Homo sapiens: one gene and its partner. The protein of the gene in region 2 purifies or fractionates together with the protein of the main gene of each other region. This does not show direct contact. Each region holds a gene or a part of one and is shown on either strand. Other genes may lie near its edges.

The links. The genes of interacting proteins can lie anywhere in the genome.
Region 1: the proteins of C1QTNF7 (region 2) and LRFN3 purify together in Homo sapiens (affinity purification with mass spectrometry; one large-scale study listed by BioGRID and IntAct). This does not show direct contact.

What each region holds. Positions count from the first base shown.
Region 1 is NC_000019.10:35,942,874-35,946,373, reverse strand, and holds part of LRFN3 (leucine-rich repeat and fibronectin type-III domain-containing protein 3 precursor), read right to left. Parts: intron 1,827-3,500; coding exon 1,355-1,826; 3' UTR 1-1,354. UniProt on the Homo sapiens protein: Cell adhesion molecule that mediates homophilic cell-cell adhesion in a Ca(2+)-independent manner. Promotes neurite outgrowth in hippocampal neurons.
Region 2 is NC_000004.12:15,434,533-15,438,032, reverse strand, and holds part of C1QTNF7 (complement C1q tumor necrosis factor-related protein 7 isoform b precursor), read right to left. Parts: intron 2,298-3,500; coding exon of another isoform or gene 2,290-2,297; coding exon 2,052-2,289; intron 1-2,051.

The DNA of each region.
Region 1 (3,500 bases), on a different chromosome or scaffold from region 2:
TAGTGAGACCCCATCTGTAAAAAAAAAAAAGAAAAAAGAAAAAATGTCCCATAGTGGGGACTTGGAATCATCCCCCACAAGAAGCCGTCTTAACCCCAGCAGCGTCAGTTCCCATCTCTGCTGACAAAGCCCTCATTTCTATTTCCAGCTTCAGCCTCAGACCAGGGGTCCTGCACCCTCCTGAATGCCACATCCTGGACATCCTCAGGGCCCCCTACACCTACCAAGTTCCCCACTGGCCATATCATCTTTCCCAAACCTGCTCCTCCTCCCTGGTCCTATATGAGGGCAGTCCCCACCATCTTCCTGCCCCACCCCATGGCCCCGCAGCTCCATAACCCACCGCCTCAGCTTCCCACAGTTTCCCGAGTGTCTCTGTCAACCCACTCCCTTTTCTTGTTCCCTAGCCCAGCTGGTCCAACTTCGTCCTCACCCACCCAGGTCCCTGCCCCAGCTTCCCCTGGGGCTCCCAGCTTCAGTCTTCCCCTTGGGTCCACCCTACTCATAGCACTAGAAGGATCTTCCTGAAGCCCCAAACTGACCCCATTCCTCCCTTGCATACAACCCTCCATGGCTCCCTGGTATCATCAGGCCAGAGTCTGAGCTCCTCAGCCTGGAGGTCCTAGACCCTGCTCAACCCTCCTGCCTCACCTCTACCATAGCACCCCCAGTGCCCAGGGCACACCACCACCTTGCTTGTGCTGTGCCCTCTGCCTGAAAGAGCTTTCCTTCTGCTCTTTGCCCAGTTATCTCCTTCATATGTCATTCTCAGATCACATGTGTCCTCCTCCAGGAAGCCCTCCCTGACCACACCTGGGGCTGAGCAAGGGTACCTCTTCTGGACTGTCACAATCCCCCAGGCTTCCCTCATCCCCACATCCCTGGTCACTCTGTGCTATCACTGTCTGGGGATGTGTCTGTCTCCCATTTGACTTTAGGCCCCTGCGGGCAGGGCTCAGGGCTATCTGGATCACCACAGCATCCCCCAACCCAGGGCATGCTCAGAGCCGACACGCAGGGAACATCTATTGTCTGAATGGATCGCCATCCTCAGCCTCCTCCGGGGTCCTCAGACTGAACTGGGCGGGGAGGGGGTGTCTCCCCAAAGGAGGCATTCCCCAGCTCCAGACCCCTGCTCCGTCCCCCAACCCCCATAGACAGAGACGAGGGCAAGGGTCTTCGCCCAAGCTTGGAAAAATAGGACTTTCTTGTTTTGCCCCGGTGTCCCCGACACCCTCCCCATCAGAGTTTTAAAAACCATGAGCGATTTGGTGAGTTTGAGGCCAGGTCCCACAGGGTGTCCGGGTCCTGCTGTCCGTGGGGCCAGAGGACCCTTAGAGGGGGGGGCGCCTGGCTAGGGTCCCACAGGTTCGTGGCCGGGCCCCCAGGGCTCGCAGTCCAGCTGGACCACGGTGTGGGCCCTGAGCGCCGCGGGCTCCGGGGCGGGCGGGGCGGGCGTGGGCGTGGGGCCCAGGGCGCCGTTGGTCTGGGAGCAAACGCTGCTAACAGGCGCGGGAATCTTGGCCTTGCCGGGGGGCTGGCCGCCGTGCACCTTGTAGCGCATTAGCAGCACGAAGATGAAGACCAGTACCGAGGCTACGATGACGCCGCCCAGCGCGATGATCATCGTGCCGCCCAGGAAGGGAGCGTGCGGCGCCCCGCATGGCCGCAGCGCAGGTTCGGTGGAGAAGCGGGCGCAGCCCACAGGCCGCGTGGCCGTGAGCCCCGTGGCGCTGTCCTCATACACGGCGAGCACGCACAGATCGTAGGTCCGGCCTGACGCCAGGTCCGTCAGCAGGAACGAGCGGCTCTCCGCCGGGATCATCCTGCAGGGCAGGCAGGTGGGGGTCAGGTCTCAGGCTGCCCAGCCCCCAACCTGTGCTTCCCCCACCAAACTCCCTGCGGGGCTAGACTTCCCACCAGTCCACTCCTTCATTTCATTCTACCCAATGAGCTCCCTCTCACCAACATCCCAATTCCCTTTGGTCTGACATCCCATTCAGCCACCTGACTGATACCCCTCCAGTCTGTTGGCCAATTTCACTCTAGCCCACCCTCTCACACGTCCTCATAGCCTGCTGCCCATTTTCACTCTAGTCCCACCACCCAATTTCTCTAACAGCTCACCACGTGAGTTCTTCCAATCCATCCTGTTTCTTTTCTTTCTTTCTTTCTGTTTTCTTATAGACAGGGTCTTGCTCTGTTGCCCAAGCTGGAGTGCAGTGGCATGATCACAGCTCACTGCAGCCTCTGACTCCTGGACTCAAGCCATCCTCCGGCCTCAGCCTCCTGAGTAGCAGGAACTACAGGTGTGCACTACCATGCCCAGCTAATTTTTAAATTTTTTGTAGAGACAGGCTCTTGCTATATTGCCCAGGCTGGTCTCAAACTCCTGGCCTCAAGGCAGTCCAGCCTCCTGCCTTGGCCTCCTTAAGTGTTGGGATTACAGGCGTGAGCCACCACACCTTGCCGGTTTCATTTTATACCCAACTGCCCAATTTCCCTTTTGCACTGCCCACTCAATTTCCCTCCAGCCTGCAGCCCAGCTCCGCTCTAGCCTCCCTGCCCAATTTTGCCCCAATCCTCTGCCTGATTTCACTCTGGTCCCACTGCCAGTCATCTCTCCAGTTCACCACCCAATTCTGCTCTAACCCTGTCCAATTTCCATCTAATTTAATCCTTTTGTCTTCTAGCCACCCCCATCCAATTTCCCCCACATTTTACCTCCCAGTCTCCTCCAGACGCTTGCCAATTTCCCTCTGGTTCCCCTATTTCCTGCAGCCTATGCCAAATTTCCCTTTTCCAGCTGCCTGATTTTCCTCTAGTGTACAGCTAGGATTCTCTCCAATCAAACCACCTGATCTCCCTGTACCCCTGTTGCCCGATTTCCTTGTAACCTGCCAATAAATGTCCCCCTAGCCCTATTGCCTTATTATGATGACTGTATTGATAGCCTGTTTTCCAATGAGTCCTGTCGTCTGATTCCCTTTTCATTAAACTAATGTGCCTCCGTCACTACTGCTTTCTTTTTCTCCCTGTTGCCTTATTTCTTTCCGGCTCTGTCACCTGCTTCTCTTTTATCTCTGTTGGCTGGTTTCTATTTATCTTTTTCTTTCTTGTTTCCTTTTAATCCTTACCACCCAATTTCACTATAGTTTCTTTTGTAGTTGGGCACCCTGTTGGAGAGTTGACTTATCACCTGTTTTATTCCTAGGCTATTCTAATGAGAGAGGTACAGGGAACTCCGTGGCCGCCTGGGGCAGGGTGACTGTCTAGGACAGCATTCATCCCATTCCCCACCTGGCAAGGTGGCCAGGACTTGTGTGACTTTTTTTTTTTTTTTTTGAGACGGAGTCTCACTCTGTCACCCAGGCTGGAGTGCAGTGGCACAGCCTCGGCTCACTGCAACCTCCGCCTCCCAGGTTCAAGCAATTCTCCTGCCTCAGCCTCCTGAGTAGCTGGGACTACAGGCGCGTGCCACCACACTCAGCTAATTTTTT
Region 2 (3,500 bases):
TATGTCTGTATATATTGGCCTCCCCCACATGAATGTCTGCTTATCAAGGCAAGAACAATGTCTTATGCTTGCGTTCCCAGTGTCTAGAACAGCGTTCTCAACCAGGTGCAATTTTGCACTGTCCACCTTTCTACCCAGTGGATAGCTGGCTACGTATAGAAAAATTTTGATTGTCAATTTAGAGAGGAGTGCCACTAGCATCTAGTGGAATGCTATTGAATATCCTGCAATGCACAGAATAGTCACTCCACGGTAAATAATTATTCTACCCAAATTCTCATTAGTGCAGAGGTTGAGAAACACTGGAAGAATAATATTAGATAGTAATAGGTGCACAGAAATATTATTGAATGAATAATGCCTGGATGCATGGATGAATGAGTGGATCTATGAATGTGGTGGTATAGTTAGCCTCATATATGGTTAAAACTGTAGCAGTTCTGAACATTTAATTTAATCTGAATGCATATCCACATATATGTCTTTAATATTAGAACTACCTCATGAAACGAATTACCAATGTCTAGTTTATTATATGGCTTTTGCTAGTCACAAATTTAGCTGTGACTCATATTTGCAGATCAGAATTTAATAAGTTATAACATTTACTGAGTTTTTATCACATGGCAGTTATCCTGTGGAAGGTTTTGCATGTACTCTTTCCCTTAAACTTAACAATCACCCTTATTACCACCAACTTACAAATAAGGAAACTGAGCCTCTAAGAGCATATGTGGCCAAGGATACTAGATTAGTAACTGAAAGAGCTAAGATTTGAGCCAAAGTCTTTCTGACTCCAATGTTTGTTTGTATAGCCACTACATTATTGCTTCCAGACCCAGTAAACTAAAAGCAATATATAACTATAATCCTGATGTTATTATAGGATTTCAAGAATATTCATAATTATGACTCAGTTGTAACTTATATTCACAGGTGTTACCCTATGGATGTCTTTAAAAACTTACATTTTAGCTCCAAATTAAAGCTTCTTATCTGATGTTGAAGCTTTCCCTAAAGGTTCTTTATCTATTATTGTGCAATGTTCATAGATTTGGTAATTGATTTGCCAGATATTATCCGCATGGCAAATTCAGAAATGAATTATTATCCAATAATCTGAATATGTTTTATGATTTTGTTTTACAGAACTCCAGTAAATCAGGTGTGATGATTGGAGTTATATAGAATTTTTTCCTTCCTATCTTTTGTCCCAACTTTTATGCTCAGCAACTTGTCTTGAAAGATTGATTCCAAATCCCTTCCTCTTTTAGAGTTAACACAGCCTGTCTAGAATTTCAATTTGGTTTACCCTGAAGGACTGCAGAATCTGGCAAGCTTCCCGGACCAACTTATTTTGCGAGGAAACAAAGTGAAAATTACTGAAGGACTAGTGGGCAATTGTGTTGCTGTAAAGAGCTGTAAAAATCTGCTTTTTAGCTGCTATGTGTCAGGTGGGAAAGTGATGAGCTAGGAAAGGTAGGCTTTACAGTGCTATTGTCACTTCATCTGTGAAAAATAAAATTTAGAAGCCCTTTATGTATCTTTGTTCAGGATATTCATGCTGAGCAGGATGGCATCTATGCATCTGGCTCCTGGTTTTTGCCTCTGCTTAATCTGTCCATTTCCCCTTCTGTCCATCTCTCTGTCTGTCCATCCATGCGCTTGCACATCCAGCCATTGCCTGCTGGCTGCAATAGCCCAGTACTTCTGGACATCAGATGTTTGAGTCTGGCTCTGGCAGCTACTAGCAGTGCACATCCACCCCGGTCCATTCTCAGTAATTCATTTAATCACACTGTGGCTCAATTTTCTCATCTATAAGATGGGATAACATTCAGCTGAAAGAGTTGTCATTGCAGTGAAATAAGGATGCAGCTACAGAGTTTAGGGAAGCATCTGAAGCCTAGTAAGGGCTCAGTAAGTTACGATTAATGAAAGTACAGAAGGGGTTTAAGGAGCAATTCCCATTAGAAAAAGTAACAAAGAAAGGGGAACAGTTTTAAGGTGGGGGTGAAGGAGGGTGTTTTATGCAACTTCTCATTCATTACCTGCAGTTCCCTTTTCACCTTTCTCTCCTTTCCTGCCGTCTCTACCATCTCTTCCTGGAAGGCCGATGCGACCATGGGGCCCAGGGGAACCATTTGCTCCAGGGGGCCCTGGAGGTCCAGGCAAGCCAGGAATGCTGCAGATATACCTGGGGGAGTAGTTCTCTCCTTTCAACTGATTACCCCGGGGTTGTCCACTGGCACAAATGGCAAAACTTGTAACATAGAGCAAGACAAACATCTTTGGCTCTGGAAGAGAAACACACAGACGTAAATGAACTTTCTGTGTTGGGAGGGGTGTGGTTTGGCATGATTGAATCAGTTTGAACAAGAGAATGTGCATTTGCAACAAATCACTCCAGTGTTCGTCTTTCCAGACATGTAAAACACTGTTTACCTTCATAATTCCATTGAAAATTATCAACACATTATTGATATAGAATCCTCAGTGCCCTACACGGGAGTTGGTGCAGATGAAGAATTGGTTAAAAACATTTCAAAATAAATCACTGCATTTATTCTTCAGAAATCAATGATGGATTTAAAAATGGCATTTTCTTTTTACAAACATAGTGCATTTTTTAAAGAAAAAAATTTAGACCTGGAAATGAAAAAGATAAACATCAACATTATTTTTACCACCTTGAGATTTACATTTTAGTATATATATCCTTCCAGTCTCTTTTGTCTATACTATGGAGAAAGTGATACCATGCCATTTCTACACTTCCTTAACTTCTTTCACTTGACAATGTATCATGAACACCTTCTCATGTCAAAATTATGTGTGACATTAAAAAATAATTGCTTTTGTCTCTACTATCTTTTATGTACAGAACCCCCATTATAGATATTTAGGTTGCTTCCAAAGTTCTCCCAATATGAACATCATGCTAGACATCATTCTAGCTAATCTTTGCATGCACCCATGATTGTTTTCTTAGAATTTATGGACTATTTAAAGCTGGAGAAAAGAGGAGGCATTTTCAGGAAAACCATGGTTTTCACTTGGTAATCATGTATAATGCCAATTAGTGTTAATTGGGGTACTGTGCATGTCCTGAGGGGAGGTCTCAAACTTTAATTTAAAATCTGCAGGATATAATGTCGTGGTGTCCCATTAAGCTGTTAGCACTGGGGCTCAATTAAAGAGCTGTGTGAAATTAAGCCACGCATGGTGCCTGTGCCCCAAGTGAAGCAGGCAGCAGGTCTCTTCAATTCTGATCTAATAGGACTCCCCCATAAAGCCTAGAAGCTCAGAATGATGAGTCATTTATTAGTATGGCACTTTGGCATATAGGCTGAAGGTGAGATGGAGAGTGGTATAGATTGGAGATACCTGATTTTTTAGGCTAAATGGTCCTTAGTATTAGCAGTTTTTTAAAGGGAAGAACATATACAGGTGGTTCTGGGGTCATGCAAATGAGTTGTGTTTGGATGGTTGGACCCATG